Linked DNA regions of Homo sapiens. The protein of the gene in region 1 interacts with the protein of each later gene in a pairwise test. Each region holds a gene or a part of one and is shown in the gene's direction. Other genes may lie near its edges.

What was found.
Region 2: the proteins of NADK (region 1) and CRY2 interact in binary tests that used the Homo sapiens proteins (3 or more experiments, as listed by UniProt).
Region 3: the proteins of NADK (region 1) and FAM124B interact in binary tests that used the Homo sapiens proteins (3 or more experiments, as listed by UniProt).

What each region holds. Positions count from the first base shown.
Region 1 is NC_000001.11:1,775,465-1,783,407, reverse strand, and holds the start of NADK (NAD kinase), read left to right. Parts: upstream 1-4,937; 5' UTR 4,938-5,119; intron 5,120-7,943.
Region 2 is NC_000011.10:45,850,452-45,857,475, forward strand, and holds part of CRY2 (cryptochrome-2), read left to right. Parts: intron 1-5,530; coding exon 5,531-5,639; intron 5,640-7,024. UniProt on the Homo sapiens protein: Transcriptional repressor which forms a core component of the circadian clock.
Region 3 is NC_000002.12:224,378,197-224,385,130, reverse strand, and holds the end of FAM124B (protein FAM124B), read left to right. Parts: intron 1-4,922; coding exon 4,923-5,558; 3' UTR 5,559-6,433; downstream 6,434-6,934.

The sequences.
Region 1 (7,943 bases):
ATCCCCCACTTTTCCCTGAAATAAATCAGTTCTTCATAGACATGCAAGTTCTTCACAAGCCCTAACCCTGCCAGCTGTCTTACAAAAACCCCACTTAAAATCACTAGAGAGTTGAACTTGTCTTGGAGGCGTCAAAAGAAAAAAAAAATTAAAAATTAAATGCAGAGAGTACCTGAGGCTCTTTCCTGGCTGGCAGTTCCTGGGAGGGAGGGGCTCCAGCAGCCGGGAGGCAGGGTGCCGGCCTGCAGTGGCCTATCTTGGTCCCTGCCCAGAGTAAATAAAGGCCGAGCATCTCAGCACGGCTGCCACACCCCCGACTCCACTTCCTCCCTTTGGGGATTCCTGTTGGCTTCTGTGTCCTAGCCTGGCACCCCGCAGACTGAGGGAGCTGGCATGTGGGACCTGGGACCCTCTGGTGCCCCTTCCCCTTGGCTTTGGCCTGGAAGAGCCAGAGCTGAGGGGGACCCCTCCCTGGGGCGGCCTGCCTGTCCCTTGGCGGGCATGGAGGCCACTGCCCCACTTTCTTAGCAAAACAGGAAATGAAAACGGGCGCCAACAACGTGCACTTGGACAGCGGCACTGACTAAGGCAGTGTGGAAAGAGGAGGATAATTCCACACTGGCTGAGTGAACTGCAATCATTTTCAAACTGTAGGCACAGAAATCTAGTTTGTAGATTGCATTAGCCTGGCCTATGCAGGAGCAGCGCCCTTTGTCGCCAGCAGCTCCGCGGTGTGGGGGCCCCTGGCGCGCTTCCTGTGTCCGGGTCACCTGGCTCCGCCCCGCTTGCGCGGGCGCACCTGTCGCAGGTGGACACAGGCAGTGGAGTGACCTGCAGCTCGCTCCGGCTGTGGGCTGTTCCTGCAGGGCCTCGGACCTCCTTTGACCAAGCGGCGCGGGGTCGCCCCTGTGCTCCATGTCCCAGGGATGGAGGTTCCCCACCTCAATTTTACTCTAGCACGTGGCACGCACGTCCACACTTGAGCAGGACAAGGTTTCCGTTCTGTCCCCTCCGTGTCACGCACCTAGCAGAGGCTGGCCCTCAGCAGGATGCGTGGGGAGGCGCGCTCTGCCCACGCGAAACGGGGACACTTCAGCGGCCTGGCGCGGCCCCCCGCTCCCCCCCGAGCCGGACCTGGGAGCCTGAGTGACTGGGGCCAATAGAAGGGCCGGCCGGGAACCGAGCGCTCCCGGGAAAGGCCGCCTCGGCCCCTCCCACTACTCTCTGGCCTCGCCCTGTCCCCTACCCCCACCCCCCAGCTCCCTTTCCTCGCTGGGTGACCTTGAGCAAGTTACTTGGCCTCTCTGTGCCTCTGGCCCCCGCGTGAAAAATGTGGACAATAAACGTACCAGGCTGTGGCCGGGCGCTGTGGCTCACGCCTGTAATCCCAGCACTTTGGGAGGCCGAGGTGGATGGATTACCTGAGATCAGGAGTTCAAGACCAGCCTGGCCAACATGATGAAACCCCGTCTCTGCTAAAAATACAAAAAATGAGCCGGGTTCAGTGGTGTGCGCCTGTAACTCCAGCTCTGGAGGCTGAGGCAGGAGAATGGCTTGAACCCGGGAGGCGGAGCTTGCAGTGAGCTGAGATCATGCCACTACACTCCAGCCTGAGCTACAGAGCGAGACTTCGTCTTATACTAGGCTGCTTGGTAAGGATCTTGTGAGGACACAGGGAGTCCCAGTCCTGCCAGGTGGTTACTGTTGATGATCCCCGCCCACTCTAGGCTCTCACCACTTCAGGGTCCTGGTCCTTGCTGCTGCCTCTGCCTGAGAGAGAAACACTTGTCCCTGGGTACCTTGGTCAAAACTGTACCCCAACCCCTGCCTGCCCCCACCAATTCTGCTTCTTGCCCGTCTGCCCCACTAGAAGGTGAACACCTGATGGACTTTGGTTTCCACTGTTGAATCCTCAGTATGCCCTGCACATGGCTGGCATCCTGGGAAAGAGGTTGCCCCTCGCCCCAAACCAGGCCAAACAGAAGACTGTCATGTGAGCAGATCCAGACACTGGCCCCTGCAGACGCCCCTATCCTGGCTTTCAGCCTGGGCAGGGCCTGTGCCGGGTGCTGGCTGGAGGCTGGATGAGATGACCAGATAGCCTGCCATACTGATGTCCTTCACTGGGAGCCTCAGTCCTTCCCAGTCATCCTTTCCCCAGGCTCCAGGCCACTTACCCTTGTGGGTTCTGGGCAGACTTCGTTCACCCAGTTTACTGGAGCCAGGCCACCTGAAGCCAACTTCCCTCTCTCCTCAGCCTCCCCAGGAGCAACCTGTACCCCAGTGCACCCCATCCTGCTCCATCCCTCATGGCCTCCGTTCCCCCTTCTCCCTCCACCCTCCCCATCCCTGCTGACCCCCAGAAGAGGATGGGTCCAGGTTTTGGGGGTTCTGAAGTAAACAACATGGGAGCCATCCTTAAAGAATACAAAAAACAATGCGAAATTATGTGAAGAGTCCACTGCCACCTTGAGCAATGGCAGCCCTGGGGCTGAGGAAGGTCAGGGCAGGGGATGCCACCCACTGCTGCCCCATCCCTGGGGCCTGGTCAGGCAGGAGGGGGCCTTTCCTGACCCCCAATCCCTTGAAGGCAGAGCCTCTTCCTGTGCACCATCTGGCAGAAGCCCCCATGATAGCCCTGGACCCTTCTGTTCCTGCTGCGGGAACATCTCTTCCCTTTGGTCTCAGCCCAAGCAAAGCTGCCTCTTGGACCATTCTGGGTGCCCTAAGGAGCCTTCCCAGCTTTGGTCTTAGTTATTGCTGGCCAGGCCTGGGGTGAGGTGTGGGTGTGAGATCTTGGCCCCTGAATCTTCAAGGTCATATCCGGGGCCTGCCCTGAGAAATTGCACAACCTGTCAGCTGAAGGAAACCACAGCCCTGGTTTTGTTTTCTCATCTCTGAAACAGGGAAGCTCTCCTGCAGGCAGTGCCCAGGCCCAGGGTAGACAAAGGGTTTTCATGCCACAGACGGGGCAGCTGCTGGAGCTCCCTACACAGCGGGACACGCGAAGGGCACCTGCTGTGTGACCTGGGGCCCACGACAGTCACTGGTTGCCTCTGCAGAAGCAGTTGACTGCCTCCACTCTAGAAGATTCTACTGAGGCCTGGCTCAGTGCCTGGCTTGTGGGTGCGCCATCTAGATCAAGCATTATTATGCTAATGATCATATGCAAAAACTCAGCTCACGCATTATTATGTTAATGATCTTATCCGCCCCCTCTCCCCCCGCCAAAGAAAAAGAACTGGGCAGCTCAAGGCCGCTTCTGTGGGTGTGGCTGGTGGTCACTTTGAAACAGTTGGGTTTGCAAAATAACCCCGGGAGAAGTTACAGAGCTTAAGAAATCCCCCAAGTTCTCATGATCCTTGCTTCCCTTTCCAGTCACCCTTGGTGCCCTGTACTTCACTGTGGTCCTGAACTGAAGAGCTGTGTTTTTCAGGAAGACTTGGCCAGGCCGTGTTCCGTGTCTCTGGATTCAAGTCCCAGGAGTCCTGACCAGAGAGCAGGTATGCGGGTGTGGGGAAGGGCTGCAGAGGACTCAGGTCCACACCGACCCTGGGCCAGGTGATCACACAGAAAGTATAGACAGGGACTGAACCTCAGAAAACAATGGCTGGGCCAGGTGCAGTGGCTTACGCCTATAATCCTAGTACTTTGGGAGGCCGAGGCGGGTGAAGTTTGAGACCCAGCCTGGGCAAAATGGTAAAACCTCATCTCTACACACACACACACACACACACACAAATATATATATATATGAATGAAGTAGTCGAGTGTGGCGGGACCTACTTGTAGTCCCAACTACTAGGGAAGCTGAAGTGGAAGGATCGCTTGCACCTGAGAGGTCAAGGCTGCAGTGAGCCGTGAGCCCGCCACTGGACTCCGGCCTGGGGGACGAATGAGACACTATCTCAGAAAAACAAAACAATGTCTGGCACCTGGGGGACCAGCAGGTTAGAGCAGCTGGTCGTGCATTGCCAGTTTACCTGACAGTGACTCGAGAGCTGAGAACTGGGTATAGGGCACATTATTGGGATATTTGAGGCCTGAAGGCGCTGATGAGCAGCCACCAGTTCAGCAAGTGCGGGCTGGGTGGGACCCGCAGTTCCAACAAACACTACAAAGTCCGCTCCTGTGGCTTTGGCCTCCTCCCCCAACTCCCCGAGTCCTCCAGCCTGTGGGGTGCGCAAAACACGGCTCCCTGGTCCCCCTAGAGGTGCCCCAGGCCACCGGGTCCTCCCTCCACTGCCAGCCTTGGGATCCCAAGCGTAGACCTCTGAGGACGTTCGTGGGCGTGCAAGGCGCACCTGGCCGCTAGAGGTGGGCGTGAGGCCGATCGCGGTTCCCCCAGGCGCAGGGCCGCCCTCCCAGCCCCGACGGACAGCCCCGAGGGAGCGCAGCGCTGCCGCAGCTGCTCTAAGTTTCGGTTCCCAAATCCGGCTCGGCCCACACCGTGTCACAGCCCGGTAATTAGGGAAGCGGCGGCGGGCGGGGCCAGCTCTCGCGGGGCACCTGCACTCCCCTGAGCCGGCCCACGTGGTCCGGGAGGTCCCGCCCGCGGTGGCGGTGAGTTGGGGGCGGGACGCCGGGCTGGGATCACAATGTCGGGGGCGCCTAGGCGTAGACGTGGCGGGCGGACCCGGGGGCGCCCTCCGGACGCGGCAGGTGAGTGGGGACGGGAGCCGGGGGCCGCCCTCCTCGGGGCGCCGACCCCCGCCTACCCGAGTCGCGGACGCCCGCCCCTGTCCCCGCTGCCCGCCTCCACTCCCTGGTCACTGCTCTCCACCGCGATTCGCCCCTCTTCCCCACCGCCCGCCTCTTTCCCGCCACGCCCGCCGCCTCCCGCCCGCGCGGGGTGTCCCGGCGCCGGTGGGACCCGGCAGACGCGCGGGACGCCCCACGTGCGCGGCAGCGCGCATGCGTGGCGGGTGCGCCTGCGCAGTGGGCGGGCGCGGCGCATTGCTGCTCGGCGGCGCCGGCGCCGGGGTCCGGGCGGCCATGGGGCAACAGGCGGCCAGGGCGCCAAGGGCCAGGTAGCGACGGCTGGCGGCGGCGCGGCGGCGGGGCCTGCGGGCTCGGTCCGGCATGTAGACGCCCCCGCAGGCGCCCGCGGCAGCGAACGGTGAGTGAGCAGACCCGGCCTGCCGTCCGCCTGGGGTCGCCCGCTGCCTGGGGTCATCGCTGCCCGCGAGCGCGCGGCCAGGCGGGGAGACACCAGGCCGGCCCTGCCCATCTGGCCTGCTGAGGAGGCCGTGGAAGTGCTGACGGGCCACCGCTCCGTCCCGAATGGGGCACCAGCACGGCCCAGGGCGAGGCTCGGCCTTGGGGACGGGTCTGAGGGAGGCCGCTGTCCGGCCTGGCTCTCCCGGGCGGGGAAGGTGGGGCCGTCCAGCCCGGACCGCGCTTGTCAGTCGCCTCTGCTTGGGCGGCCAGGTCCTCGGTGTCCGGCCTTCCGTGGGTGGTTTCAGCAAGCAGGAGGGGTCTTTGACTCGTGAAAGCTTAGAGGGGCCCAAACCTAGTGGGAAAGTATGAATAAAAGATTCTATACAGCAGTATTGGCATGGAATTCTCTAAAAACACATCTCTGATTTAGTGCCCAGTACTTGCCAGAAAATTCCAATAGTCTATGGTGATGTTCCTACAGGCGGCTGCCATCCAGTAGGTCAGATGTCAGCACCGGCCTTGAGCTCTAGGTCGTCGTTTTTTTTCTTAATTGTGGGAACAGGGCGTGCCCAGCTCCGAAGGCCTGGTGGAGTTTTCCTTCCCAGGCCAAGGACCACCCCCACCCTCCCATCCCTCCTCCCCAAGCAATGAGATTCCTTTTGGCTTCGATTCCGAGTAACAAGTTATTTTTCCTTTCTTGTTTTGGAACACACTAAGTTTTACATTCAAAAGTTCATTATTCTTGGCTCTTGATGGGAATACATTTCAAAACTCTTCTCTTCTTGTGTTCCATGTCTCTCTGACAGCCTTAGTTGGCCTGAAACTGACATGTTTGCCTTAATAAGTTTTTTTTTCCTCCTGATGTCATCTTGTCTAAGAAGCTAGTTACTTTAACACCTTGTTAGATAATTCCCTTCAAGTACTTATTCCCCTGAACATTGTCCTCTCAAGCCTCTGGAAATTTCCTGTCCCCTTGGAACTTCTCTGTAAGGCCTGTTTGCTCTCAGCAGTGACTTCACTGGGACTTTTGCAGCCACTTTATGGTGTTAGCACGCTGATTCCAAGCTACTTGAGGAATCACAGGTGCCACCGCAGTACCCAACAAAATAGCTTCATCATTTGGAGGTGTCCTCTCGAGATGTTTCTGTGTGTATATGTGTGTGTATGTTAGAAACAGGGCCTCACTCTGTCCTCCAGGCGTGTTTATGGTGGCATGATTATAGCTCACTGTAACCTCAAATTCCTGGGCTCAATTGATCCTCCCACCTCAGCCTCCTGAGTAGCTGGGATTACAGGCCTGCACCACCACACCTAGCTGATTTATAAAATTTTTTGTAGAGATAGAGTCTCACTGTGTTGTCCAGGCTAGTCTCAACCTCCTGGCCTCAAGAGATCCTCCTGCCTCCACTTCCCAAAGTGCTGATCTTACAGACGTAAGCCACTTTGACCAGTCTTTTTTTTTTTTTTTTTTTTTTAAGACAGAGTCTAGCTCTGTTGCCCAGGCTGGAGTGCAGTGGCACAATCTCGGCTCACTGCAACCTCCACCTCCCGGGTTCAAGTGATTTTCCTGCCTCAGCCTCCTGAGTAGCTGGGATTACAGGCGCCCACCACCACGCTCAGCTAATTTTTGTATTTTTAGTAGAGACGGGTTTCACTGTGTTGGCCAGGCTTGTCTCGAACTCCTGACCTCGTGATCAGCCCACCTTGGCCTCCCAAAGTGCTGGGATTACAGGTGTGAGCCACCACAGCTTGCCTCACTTGGACCAGTCTTTTTGTTTGTTTGTTTCATTTGAACTTGGAGGTGGGTTTATGTTGTTTCAGTTGGCAGCCTGCTGTTTGGTTCCAAAACAGCATTTTCTTCTTGAAACAACTGCTGTCAGCAGTTAGATTTCCAGGCTAGCACAAAAACCTGTTTGACTCATAAATCCTTGTAGTGAGGGTGTCCCAGAAAGTTGGCCAAGTCAAGAGCAGTTCTTGTGGAGTGGAGGCGGTGAACAAATAGGGGGAAAGTGGCGCTCGTGATGAAAACGGAAAACAATAGTTGATTTTATTGAGCTTCACGCTTGAGGAAATGTAGGTCTCACTTGGAAAATTAAGAGGCAGGTGGGTGTTTGCGGGACTCGACGGCCTTGCATCTGGATTACCTCCAGTCTGCAGGTGTGGTAGGATGACAGCAAGAGGGAGTGTTGAGCACACAAGCCCAGCACTTGGGGGGAGGCTGTGTCATGGCAGGAAGGTACAGGGCCTCCTCCAGCAGCTCCACTTTCTAGTCCGTATATACCTGTTGACAGTCACCGCCCAGCTTCAGCCGTTCTGGACAAGTGGGTGTCAGTAATGCTTTAGCTTGTAACCCCAGGATTTCATTTCTACTCTCTGTGCTGGTGGCTTATCATTTGCAATCTTTCCTGGCCCACAATTGCAAAGGTCCTAGCATTCATGCATGGGAATGGGGAAGTGAATAAAATGTGTGTGTGTGCTTCAGACAGATGGTGAAAAGTGTTCAGAGAAAAAGCGAAATTGAGGCAGATGGGATGTGAGGATGCCACGCACACTTTGTGCAACTGAAGAGGGAGGTGATGCCTGGCCTTCCCATTCAGAACTGCCCAGACCCCTGTTTTCTTCATCTGCCCCTAAGTAGGTGGAGCCACATCTAAAGAAAGCCCCCTTCAGACCTGTAATCTGCTTAGGTTTAATGAGGTCACAGGGTGAAGCCCTGTGGTCACATGGCTGTAGCACTTTCCAGAAAGTCTTTCTCAGTTTGTATACTGCCAGTGTGCATGCCA
Region 2 (7,024 bases), on another chromosome or scaffold:
AAGAGATGAAGTAACACAAACAGATTGAATATAATAACTGCTCCTGGGCCTGGAAACAGACACACTCCTACCACCTCCACCATTCTGCTTGCTTCCTGGATCAGTTGAAGGCAGAGCTGCATTCTCTTTTGTGCACAAAGTTGGGGATAGAGGGGAGGGCTGGAGCCAGCCATATCTTGACATGACTGTAGTATGTGTAATCGTCCCGTGGTTGTTTCTGGATTCCAAGAGTGGTCTAAGAGAATTGTGCTGCAGCATAATGTCCTAGCTCTGCAACTGCTTAAGTTGTCTCTGAGAAGCCTCCCTGGGAAGGGCAAGGGACCATCTGCAAGGAGGGGAGGACCCAAAATCTGTGACTCTGTTTCCCTCCTGCTCCTTCTACACTGACTCCCACACAATGTTTTTCTGCAGAGGAAATCAGATTAAAATAACTATGAATGGCACTAAGAGTAAAAACGGACAGAGAAATGCAACCAAGAAATACACATATTGATTAGCAAGAAGAAGCCTAGCATACTTCTTGCCCTGGTGATGGTGGGAAGTTTACGGGCTAATTGTAGCTATATGAGCCTCAGGACTTTTTTTTTTTTTTTCCAAGTGCTACTTGGCTAAGCCCTTTCACATTTTCCCCAGCCTCACCTTCCCCAGATTTGCTACATCTAGAAGGAGGTACTGCAGCAAGAAGATAAACTAAAGGAAGATGTGAGCAGTTCCTAGATTTTAAAATGACCTCTGTGGTTTTTCATTACCTTTCTCTCCCCACTGCAACTTGGATAGGTGTTAGCAACAGTTCCTCTTCCACTTTATTTAAATCATTTTGTCCCTGGCTCTGTGCTGCGCCTCTTTCAGGAGCTTCTGGGACAGAGGGAATTTGTAGAAATAAAATATGTTCCCTCTCAGCCCATTTCTCTTAGAATTGGTAAATGAGGTAAACTGGGAACTTCCCAGGATGCCCCATGAGAACAAGTGTGTCTCTCTTCCCAGATGCTGAGAGCTGAACACTGTTGGACTGTTGGGAAGTGGATTGAGAACGCTAGTCTACTGGCAGGGAAACAGGAGCTTCTCTGAGCTATTCACATTGGTACCTGAGAGAGGCACTTTACTGTTCTGCTGCCAAGGAAATGTTTCTGTTTGCCCAAAGGGGATAAAAACCTTCATCTTTCTCTTTGAAATTAGGAAAGAATAAATATATTTTTAAAATAATAAGAATTTAATATTTAAGTATTTCTAAATATCACTCAGATACTTAGAAATAAATCCCTGCCAGAGATTGTGAGTTTAGGTTATCCTTTTCCATGGGGCTTAAGCTCTCTTAATTACTTAGGAAAAATTAATTTCTATTAATATCCTATGTAGCCAATCTGTGCCAGCCAGTGGTATCATCATCGTTGTTAGATAACCTTGCCTTGAAGCAGAGGAACTTGGTCAAGGACAGCCTGGACCCAAAAGAATTCACTGTTATCCTCCCTCCCCCCATTAACAACAAATAAATAAAATATTCCTCAACACAGGATCAGCCATTCCTAGAGAAGGCCTTCCCTAAATATGAGTACTTAATCAAAGGATCTGCTTGTTTTATTCTAAAAGGCTAGCCTTGTAGAGTCCCTGAGTTATAGTGTCCTCTCTATATTTTTGGAAATCCCAGTCTGGTTTTCTCCAGTTCTGCCTGCCTCTGGCTCCAGAGCACTTACATAATAATGTAATTCAGTTGCACATGTTGTCTAATCCAAAGGGTAAGCTTTGCTCTCCCAGGACCATGTGCTCTGAATTTTGGCCATGTGAGCTCAGCTAAGAGCTGCCAAGGGTGAAGTGCCAGCCCCCAACACCACCATCTCCAATGCCCAGGCCAGTTTCCTTCAGAGTCCCCTCATTGGAGTAAAGAGAAATTGGAGTAAAGAGGAGGGTTCTAAGGGACCACAGAAGGCCCAAGGTTCTCTCTGGTGAAAGAATGCATATACCTGCCCACTGAGCCTTTGCCCAGTCGCAGCACTGCTCCAAATGTGAGGGACAGCTGTCACCTGGCAGGCCTCAAAGGTAGTACCCTAGTGGTGGCTTCTCATTCTCTGCATTCTCTGGCTGCCTGGAGTCTGGAGATACTGGGGACCCTCCTCACATCCCTGTCTATTGCCTCCGTGTGGTGGCTGTCCTGAGCCCTCCCTTCCCGGGTTGACTCGGGAGGGAAGTTGGAAGAAGCAGAGCATTTCTAGCAGGCCAAAGGGGAGGCAGAAATATGGATGCTCAAGAGAGAAAGTTTAGTACAAACAAACTAGAAGCAAAGAAAGGCAACTTGTAACAGAGACTAGAAGTAAAGTTCAGTTTTCTAGAGTAGTGCTTGTGAAACTTTAATATGCAAATGAATCACCAGGGGATCTTGCTAAAATACAGATTCTAATTTTGGAGGTCTGGGTTAGAGCCTGAGATTCTGCATTTCAACAGACTCCTGGGTGTTTCACAGCCAATGCTGCTGATTGTCAGACCACACTCAGAGGAGGAAAGATCTGGCAGCAGAGGTGTTGCTGGCCTTTGAGTTGGCCTGTGGTGCTCCCTAATGGCTGAGCCCAGGGCAGCACAGCCTCAGTGCTCTGTTTGTTGAGAGGCAGTGGCTGGCTAAAAACGAACATGTCAAGCCTGACAGATTGCCTAGGTTTGAATTCTGGCCACTTACTAGGTATATGATGTTGGGCAAGTTTCATAATCTCTCTATGCCTCAGTTCCCTCATCTATAAAATGGGAATAATAATATTACCTACTTGATTGGGCTGTTTGAGAATTAAATGAGGTAATGTATGTGAAACAAGTAGAATAGTGCCTGTCATTGTAAATGCTTATTAAATGTTAATCATTGCCATTATTATCATTATTTTTATTTAGTTGCTGGGTTCAGAGTTGGGCCTTCTACCAGCCTCACATCTCTGCTTCCTGCTATAAACATCTTTTGTGAAAGAAGAAAAGGGCTCTCATAGGATTAGCTGTACTTTAGAGATGCTACGAGGAATCTCTCCTTTTAGTAAATGAGGTCTAAAAATAAAGTTCTATAGAAGGCAGATTGCTACATGTTCTGGAACCTAGATTTCATGTGCATTCCAACCTTATTTATAGCTTCAAATCAAAGTCCTATGCAGCCTGGTGGACTGTGAAGGAAAAGACCCCCAAAGCGCATGGCAAGGACACTCCTGGGAGCTGCAGATGGAGGACCCTGTGTCCTGGGGTTATGAAATTTAAATCACTGCTCCTAGCCCTAGGCATTCTACCTGGCAGGGTCCAGGTTTCAGATGGCATGAGACCATTTGCATGGATTTCTCTTCTTTTCCTTCCAGAAGAGTGGTGAGGCTTGGGGGAGGCCAACACAAGTGACGCACTTGCAGCTCCCTGTTCCTTTTCTGGAGGTGACAATTTTTCAAAAACAGAAATTCACAGAGGTGGAGCTTTTGGTTTGCATAAAGCAGCATTCAACCTGTTTGTCTTCCATCCCAACCTCTCAGAGAGTCTTCCTCATGCTCTTTTGCAAACATGATGCTTTGAGCCGAGGCCAGGGCTCAGCCCATGCTAGAATGTGGGTCGGTGGCATTGGCCGTAGGAGTGTGTCAAGTTGTGTACGTCAGAGGCAGCAGTGGGGGCTGGTTCTAGTTGGCAGCCTGGGAATAGTCACTGCTTCTGTAAGCCTCCAGTAGTCAGGGAATGTGACTGTGATGTGCCATTTCTATTGTTGACAGAGAAAAATGCTGGGGATGGGTGGAGACCCAAGGGGTAGATAGCAGGTGCCTCAGAGGTATCTGTGACATATGCAGATTGACCTGTGGGTTCTTGAAGAAGAAGATAAGAATGCCAGTGGATTACCTGTAGTCACATTGCTATTAGAGAACAGGATTCCAAACTCCTGAGGGCCTGCAGAATCTCAGCCCCTGGAACAGAGTTGGTGTGCAACTAGAAATCTTTAGAAATGGGGCACAGAACCCTCACGGTGGCTCACGCCTGTAATCCCAGCACTTTGGATGGCTGAGGAGGGCGGATCACTTGAGGTCAGGAGTTCAAGACCAACCTGGCCAACATGGTGAAACCCCATCTCTACTAAAAATATTGTTTAAAAAATTAATTGGGTGTGGTGCACATACCTATAACCCCAGCTACTCGGAAAGCTGAGGCAGGAGAATCGCTTGAACCTGGGTTGGGGAGGTTGCAGTGAGCCGAGATTACGCCACTGCACTCCAGCCTGGGCGACAGAGCGAGACTCTGTCTCAAAAAGTAAATAAATAAATAAAAAAGGGCACAGAGAGGAAAATGTGGGTTTCAGAGTGACCACCCTAGGTTCCTGAATCCCCAGCTTTGTCACTTAACAGCTATGGTCTTAGACAAATTAATTCACCTCTGAGTGTCTCAGTTTCCTCATCTATAAAATAAGGATGGTACTATTTCCTTCAAAATAGTTGAGAGAATTAAATGCAGAAATGCACTTAAAAAGCATGACAGAACCAAAATCCCATTGATAACCTTGGTTGCCTCTGGGGAGTGAGGGAGGGGAAAACCCTTTCTACTATGTACCACTTTGTCACTGGAATTTTGAGCCACATGAATAGTTTATCTGGTTATAATGTTAATTTAATTTAAAAATAAAACGCTGAAGGCACTCAGCAAATGTTAATGTCCTTTCCCTTTCCCCTGGTGATCCAGGTCTCCTGCTGAAGTTCTTGCCTAGCTGCGGTCTTCCCCACCCCCACCCCCACAAAAATGTGAAGATAGCTATTGAGAAGTACCTTTTAAGGCCTTCTCCCTCTTGGGATGAGAACCTGATCACCAGAGCCCTGGAGAGGCCTGGAGAGTGAGCCACCTGCCAAACAAAGCTCTGGGAACTAGGGACCCATTGCAGGCTGTGAGGCTGTGGCAGCAGAAATACGCATGGCCCAGAGCATGCATGCAGAAAGTCAAGGAGTCTTTTCCACCAGAGTAAGGAGGATTTTCCCGGCTGTGGCAGTCTGGTCCTCTGCTAAGAGGACCTTAATGCTTCATACCACAGTATTGCACTGGCTTTTCAGATGGCTCCCACGTGAGTCTCACAACAACCTCATGCTGGGCAGATACTTATATCTAGCCCCAGAGACTGCGAGGGAGTAAGTGACTAGCCTCTGATCACACAGAAACACCACACTAGGAACAGCTCACATTTATCTCATGATGTCTGTGTGCCAGGCACAGTGCTAAATGTTTTTCACACATTATTCGATTTTCTTTTCTTAGCAATTTTATGAGATGGGTACTAACATCAGCTTCACATTACCGGCGAGAAAACAGGCAAAGAGGTTAGGTTATTGCCTAAAGTCACACAGCTAGTAAGTGGCAAGACCAGGGTTTGAAGCAGAGCAGCGCTGATCCACTACCACATCCCTCCTGGGCTGGAACCCAGGCCTCTCCAGCCCTAGTGATCATGAGGCTGCCTGTTGGGCATAAACAGCGAACCAGTTTCTCCCTGCTTTGTTAGGAAAGAGAGCCACTCTTCATGATGTTATCACTAACAAGGCCTGTGTGGACTCCACAGGTTCCTACTTCAGTCTCTGGAAGATTTGGACACAAGTTTAAGGAAACTGAACTCCCGCCTGTTTGTAGTCCGGGGACAGCCAGCCGACGTGTTCCCAAGGCTGTTCAAGGTAAGCGTGCAGAGCCCCAGAGAAGACAGTGAGATTCTGTCCCTGACGGTTTCCCCACAGCCTGAGTGATATGATATTCCGACTGAGGGAATGGAAACATCAGGGCTGGTCTGGCTGTTGCTGCTAGAGAAGTTGGGAGCAAAGGCAGCCAGTTAGCTTGCTCTTGGAATGGAAACTGTGTTAAGGAAAAAAATTCTGGGAAACCAGTGTCTTGTTGGAAAGCTCTCAGCTCAGTCCAGACATAGGATGTGGTAAGTCATTCCACTCTGGATGCCACTGGCTTCCTTCAATGTTTTCTTGGCTCAAGCCAGCCAGATTTATTAGGGTTCCTTCTAGGCCAAGACTTTGAGGTGGGGTTTCATGTCTAGCAAGGTACATTTCCCATCTTGCTTTGCTCTGCTTATTGGGAAAAGTCAGCCTTTTCTGCCGGGCGAGGTGGCTCACGCCTGTAATCCCAGCACTTTGGGAGGCCGAGGCAGGCGGATCACGAGGTCAGGAGATCCAGGCCATCCTGGCTAACATGGTGAAACCCCGTCTCTACTAAAAATACAAAAAATTAGCTGGGCATGTTGGCTGGCACCTGTAGTCCCAGCTACTCGAGAGGCTGAGGCAGGAGAATGGTGTGAACCCGGGAGGCGGAGCTTTCAGTGAGCCGAGATTGTGCCACTGCACTCCAGCCTGGGCAACAGAGCGAGACTCCGTCTCAAAAAAAAAAAAAAAAAGGTCAGCCTTTCTGAGGAAGCTTTCTTGTTTCCCATGGGGTAAATGATTGATAGAAATCTTCATTTTGGTGCCACATAGGTTTCTGTTTGCAGTAACGGGGCCAGTCCACTTTTCCCTCAATCCCTTTAAAAAGTATATTCTAAGGCCCACATAGAAGCACAGGAACTCATGGACAGAGGGCTGTGGGACAGACTGCCATCACCCTCAGCAGCACACAATGATTGTCATGCCCCTCCCCACCCTAACTCCGAGACAAAAGGAAAAGTCATGTCAAGGCAAACAGCTTAGTGAATACATCATCCTTCAATTCCCCTCCCCGTAACCCCACACATAATTGTGCATACATGTACAAATCACACAGTGCTAGTAATTGCCCACATTCATTGAGGGCTGCCTATGAGTCAAGCGCTGTTCCCAGTGCTTGTTTACATCAACTGAGTTCTTCCTCACAGCAGGCCTAAGAGGTGGCTACTGCTATCCCGATTTACAGGAGAGGAAACAGTCATTGGTTGTGAAGTTAATAAGTGACGATCTTGGATTCTGACTCTAGAGCTGTATCCTTACCCACCATACCATATAAATACATTTGCCTCCCTTCTCCCCTCGACATTGCCCTTTTTCTCCCCCAGCAACTCAGAGGCCAACCCACTTATATCCCAGAG
Region 3 (6,934 bases), on another chromosome or scaffold:
AGATTTTATCTTGTCAGTGGCATGGGTAGAGAAAATAAGGGGAGGTTTGTAGAAAAACATAACTACACAAATTTTATATACAGGTTTGACAGTGAAGGGGAGGACAGAGAAACCTGGAGGGAAAGAGAGGGTGGAAAGAATGTGTTTTTCAAGACACGAGACTTGAACAAGTTTAATTGCTGTTGGAAAGGAATAGGCAGAGAGAGAGAAAGAGAAGGAGAGGGAGAGAGATTAAACATCCAAGATAAGAAAGTGGGAAAAATGAATAATTGATAGGTCAGGGTCACCAAGAAGGCGGGAGGTGATGGGAGTCTTGGCCCAGGGACCGGTCACTTTCACCTAGAGAGAATGGTGAAGCTGCAGGTAAGTTTCGCGGTAGCAGTGAGAGTGTTGCTAACTGGTGACAGCATCTGCTTCCTTGATAATCTGGATGGTGAGACCACCTGATGAGAGAGAGTGGGGGCGATGGTGCTGCTGAAGATTTCAGGACAGTTTTGAAGGTTTGAACAGCTGCTGGGTGAATGGAGAGAGGTGACTAAGGAAGCAGGCAGACTGGCGGGTAGCCTGGGAGAGGCCGGAAACCACGCCATCATGGGGCACCCATTTCACAGACCGATGTGTTTCTGTGGCATCCTGAACACATGTTCAGAAAATGTGGGCAGGTAGATGGATGAAAGGTGGGGAGATTTTGTGGGAGTCTGTGACAGAATGGGAATAGTGAGGGGAGTTGGAGGTATTGGTGAAGAAATGGTTGAAGTGATAGTCTTTGGACTCAAATTGACTCTGAAAGGCAGTGTGGATGGGAGGGGCTGACAGGGAGAAGCTGGGGATTGGGAGTGTTGATGTTGAAGAGCAGATGTGATGGGGAATTGAGTGCCGGAGCCCATGGCCTCAGAATGCCTGGCTTAAATAGAATCTTTCAAAGATGGGACATTTGCAGGTGGAGAAGGCCCAGTGGAGGGGCTGTGGGACTGGGTGACAGAGGGGAGTGGAGGGGTGAGCTGGGCTGGCCCAGGAGGGCGCTTCCTGGCTGCCCTGAGATGTCTCGGCACTGGTTGGGGCTTCAGGACCAATTTCATTATGATCTGACATTGATTTAGATGGCAAGGGGCGATTACTCAGGCTTCTCTCTGTGTTCACAGTTGCTAGAGAATGAAATACAAGCCCCAGAGTCAAAGTTATTGATTTCTTTCTCCAGATTGGATAATCTAATATCAACCCTGAACCATTTCTCAGTATGGAAATATCCATGCCAGTTTCCATTTCTAGAAGAAAAAGATGTCATTGGGTCAATTAAAAAGGTACATTATGATACAAGGGTACAGTGTCAAATGATTCTCCAAGAGGCAATGATGGCAGTTGGCCCTTTGAAGGACTAAGGGAGTTTGTTCTCCAGGGGAAGGGAAACCCCAGCTGACATTTCGGAGATAGTATTTTTTCCTCCTGATTTTGAAAGGATAAGCAAATAGTCTTCATTGGAAAGTGAGAATTTGGGGGTGATTTGAGGTTGGGATAGGGAGAAGGCTTTACTTTTTATTTTATACATTTGTACAATGAAATTATTTTTATGGTGATAAATTACTACTTTTATAGTAAGACTTTTTTAAAAAAACAAACAGATGAAAAGGAAAGAAAGGAAAGGAAGGGCAGGAGGAAGGAAGGAGAGAAGGAAGAAAGGAGGGGAGGGAGGGCGGAGCTGTGGAATTAGAGCAAAGGGAAATGTAGAGAGAGATAGCAAAATGAAATTAGGCAAAGAATTTTTCAGAAATATGGAGGAGGAGGTCGGGTGTATGTGATAAGAAACAGACTCACAACGACCGCAAGTTAACTGACTACTCGAAGCCTAGCTTTTCTGGGTCCATGGCAGTAGTTCCGAAACTTCGCTGCACATTAGAATTACTGGGGGAGATTTATCAGCTCTGACAGCCAGGTGTACTCTGACCTGATGAAATCAGGAGGTCATGGGCTGGGAGCAGGCATCATTGTTTTTTAATGATCCCAGGATGTTCCCTTGTGCAGCAAAGTTTGGGAACAGAAATTTCTCCTATGGGTTTGCATAAGGACAGGTCCTTCGGTGCAGTGGGCATCCCTTCAACAGTGTCGCCCCTAGAGAGAGTATCTGATGCTGGTGGAAGCTCTCTTCAACACACTCTGGGGCACTGCACTCAGCTGTGGTTCAGTGCAAGCACATCTGCGATAGGGGTTTCAGGTGTGTGTGGCTCTAATGAACTGGCTTGGCTCAGGGGTAGAATTTAGATATTCTAGAATAGTGGTTTTCAAGCTGGTTCTGTGAAGCCCTGGGGAACTAGAGAGGGGGTCCCGTAGGCAGAGGCTACCCTCTGTACGTCAACCAGGGCTGCGCTAATTAGATTGCTTCATATTTTGGGCTTCCAGGTAAGAAATTGTTTGGAAAAAAACTTCTTAAGATAGAGAGATGGCTCACTCCTGTCATCCAGCATTTTGGGAGGCCAAGGTGGATGGATCACCTTAGGTTGGGAGTTTGAGACCAGCCTGACCAATATGGAGAAACCTCATCTCTACTAAAAATACAAAATTAGCTGGGCGTGGTGGTGCATGCCTGTAACCCTAGCTACTAGGGAGGCTGAGGCAGGAGAATCACTTGAACCTGGCAGGTGGAGGTTGCAGTGAGCTGAGATTGCGCCATTGCACTCCAGATTGGGCAACAAGAGCAAAACTCCATCTCAAAAAAAAAAAAAAAAAAAAAGACAGGGAATCATTGATCTAGAATAGGGCTTGGTCAACTGTGGCCTGAGAACTAAAAATAGTTTTCTATTTTTATATGGTTGGAAAAAAATTCATGACACATAAAAAATATGAGATTCAAATTTCAGTGTTCATACATAGAGTTTTACTGAACACAGCCATTCATTTATATATTGTCTATGGCTGCTCTGCAGCAGAGTTGGATAGTTGGGATAAAGACCATATGGCCGGCAAACCCTCAGATATTTACTGTCTGGCTCCTTGCCGAAAATATTTGCCAACTTCTATTCTAAAAGAATCAGTGGAAGTCCTTGTTTTTTTGTGTGTTTGTTTTTGCAGCTTGGTAATATGCACCTCACCATTTCTATCAGAAAATTGAGATGTACTCTGCGTCATCTATACAAACAAATATGCTCTGTGTGAGTGTGTGTGTGTGTGTATGAGAGAGAGAATTTACTGATTTCTAGACCTGTTTTCTCACTGTCCTCATTTCTGCCTTCTTGCCTTGTAAGATAAATATGTATCATTATTTTTTCTCCCTTGAAATAGACCTTATTTTTTACAGCAGTGGTAGGTTCACAGCAGAATTAAGCAGAAAGAACAGAGAGTTCCCATATACAACCTTCCCCCCGAAAAGAGCCTCCTTTCCTGTCAACATCCTTTATCAGAGTGGTACATGTGTTACAACTGATCAACCTACAACGACACATCACCATCACCCAAAGCCCATAGGGTACATTAGGGTTCATTCTTGGTGTCGTACATTCTGTGGGTTTGGACAAATGTATAAGGATGTGCATCCACCATTACAGTATCATGCAGAGTAGTTTTCACTGCCCTAAAGTCCTCCTGCTCCACTTAGTCATCCCTCCCTCCCCCCAACCCCTGGCAACCACTGATTTTTTTACTGTCTTCATAGTTTTGGTTTTTCCAAAGTGTCATATAGTTGGCATCATATAGTCTCTCTCTGTCACCCAGGCTGGAGTGCAGTGGTGCAGTCATAACTCAATTTAACCTCGAACTCCTGGGCTCGAGGGATCCTCCCTCTTCTGCCTTCTGAATAGCTGGGACTATATGTATGGACCACACGTCTGGCTGATGTTTTTATTTTTTGTAAAGATGGGGTCTTGCTAGTTGCCCAAGCTGGTCTTGAACTCCTGGCCTCAAGTAGTCCTCCCACCTCAGCTTCCCAAAGGGCTAGGATTACAGGCATGAGCCCAGATAGGCTTCTTTCAGTTAGTAGTATTTATTGCAAGTTCTTCCGTATCATTCTTCTTGATATTTGATTAAGGGCTGGGCCAGGTAGGGATGGATCCTGGATACAAATTTCCAAGGGCTGTTATCAAAATGGAAAAAATTGCCTTTTTCCAGAAATCTTCTTGGGAAGAGTGTTGTGCATGGAATAGGATGCAAGGCTCCCAAGGGTGGAAGTCTTAAAGGGGGGTCAGTGAACTCCATCCTGTGGAGGGAGAGTGCAGTCAACTGCAGGGTGAGGGTTTTGCTGAGTGGTGTCTGTAAGTTTGTAACCAGAGTGGAATTGCTAAGGATGAAAACACCTAAACTTCCATATAAGCCATGCCCCCTTTTTGTTTTCTCATGCAATACCAGGCCTCTAATCTAAATAAATGGTGCCCCAAGAATTTAAAGAATATTGCTGCCAAATTATTAGCCGTCTGGAGTGGTCACATGTCTTAGAATGGCCCAAGATATGTATTTTTATTAGCATGATCTAAAAGAAGGATCACCAGCTTTGGAAGATTGAATTCTTACTTCAATCCTTATCTTAACTTTAACCACATGGTTTGGTGGCTTTCTAAATTTCTTTTTTTACATGGTTGCTAATAAATATATCATTTACAACATCCAGTGAGGTCACTGAATGACATCTGTGAATGTCTGCATTGTTTGAACAACTTGCTCTACCAGAAGTGTGGTGTTGTCAATTGGCCATTTGATTCCCAAAGTCTTACCCTTGTCAAAAACTTAATTTAGGGAGTCCCAAAGAGAGGTATTTGGGGCTGGGTCTGATTAGATATCTCATAATTATATTGTACTTATCACTTCTATTCAATTCAACCAAATTTACTGAAAGTCTGCTATGGGCATGGCATGGCAGAGGGTGAATAAGGCATAGTCAGCTCTTGGCACTTAGTTAATGGAAATTATGTTTCATATGTTCCTCCTTTCCTTTCCTGTAGGTTCAGCTGAATCCAGAACTTGGTGTTAAGAATGGCATCTTGGGAGCTGGCATGCTTCCCCTGGGCTCCAGGCTGACTTCTGTCTCTGCAAAGAGGACCTCAGAACCCAGGAGCCAGAGGAACCAGGGCAAGAGGTCCCAGGGGCATTCTCTGGAGCTTCCTGAGCCCAGTGGGAGCCCCACATCAGACAGGTGTGCTGGCACTTCGTGGAAAAGCCCTGGCCGGTCATTCCAGGTCAGCAGCCCAGCTATGGGTGCCCACCTGCACCTGTCTTCTCATCACCTTGAATCCGGGGCCAGAATGAAGGTCCTCAACCGGGAAAACAGCTTTCAGAAGCTTGAGGCCGAGACGAATGTTGACACCGGCTTGACCATCATAAATTCTGAACCCAGGCAGACTTATTTTGGCGGATTTCCAAGGGATTTACAGACCAGCCAGCCACCATTCTGCTTGCCAGCCTCTTCCTTGGGGGTGGCTACCTCCAAAAACAACAGTGTCCTTAAGGAAAGAGTCTCTCCTTTGCCACTTGCTGGCCAAAGGGACCTTGGTACCAGGAAGACAATTTCAGAATGTCTCCTTCATCTGCAAGTTCAGGGTGAAGAAAAAGAAGAAGATGAAGAAGAATTCTTTATATAGCATAAAATAAATGTGGTTTTCTAAAACACAAGATCAGATAAAATGTTCTAGAAATGGAGTACTGACCCAGAATCAGCCTGTTAGTTGTTCATCTGAGGGGGGCTGAATGCTCCCCATGCACAATCTGTATTGATTTTATTTCAAATGTTCAAAGTCTAAAGGTGCTGGGAATGATTGTTTATTTGCCGTCACAGTCATAAGAGAACACAGCCAACACACAGGGAAAAAAACCGAATGCTTTTGTTCCGTGGAGATGCACTAACCCAGCTGGATGTGTTGAATCCAGCACCTATCAGGATAATTGCATTGTATGCAAATGAATCGGTATGTTATACAACACTAATTAGTGTCTGTAATTTGGTTTTAATTTTTACTTAGGTTGCATAGCTCATCCCCCTGGACAATATGGACTGCTATTTACTCTTGAATGCTTTTTAATTTTCATGTGACCTCTTTTGGTAACTAGGCCTTGTTCACATACCCTCCTTGTGATTTTGTCTTTAAAGTTGTTTGTATCTGGAATGAGTGAAAATGCAAAGTGTTTTGAAAATTATAAACAGTTAATTTTGTTTTCCTGTTTAATGAGCCAAAATACTGGAAGCCAGAAAATCAGGTTGAACATGAATGCTAGGCTCTAGGGCTTTCCTGCTCATCTGCTTCTCATTTGTTTCTGCACTATGTCAAAGAGGACAGTGGTTCTTGTTACAAACCAAAGAGGAACATTGAGCACAGTGGGAAAATTGGACTGGTTGATCTGGTCACTGGAGCAGGACTTGGGTTCTTCTGGCCAGATTTTGACTCCCAGATTCCTTTACAAAACGCACTCATTCATTCATTTATATATGTTCATTCAATAAACATTTTTTGAATACCTACATTTGAATAAGACATTGTGTATATGGTACATATACATTCTGGGGCCATGAAACCCAAAAAGTGTTTATGGTTTCACCACTCTGATAAATTCATTCTACCAACTTTTAAAAAGATACTGAATTCCAAATATATTCCTCCAAAAACTTTTTCCACAGTTGAGGCCCACACTGGCCACATAATGGTGTAATAAGCATTTGCAACCTGCAGATGGAGACTGGGCATATTATGAATTGCAATTATAATTGCAATGGACAAATTCTCGTTGCCCATATGCTGAATTTTTTGGATATGTCTGTACACACATGTTTAAAAATCCCGAGGCCTGTGTTTCAGTTCATTTATAAGGTTATTCAATTCCACGAACTTCACTCTCAGAACAGATGTTACATAAGAGTGTAAATGTTGATTTAGCTGGATCTTTTGGAGACTTGGAGACTTACTACACCTAACTGGAGACAGAGATGAGTTCAGTCCTAAAGTCAAATCTTGCAAAAGTGAGT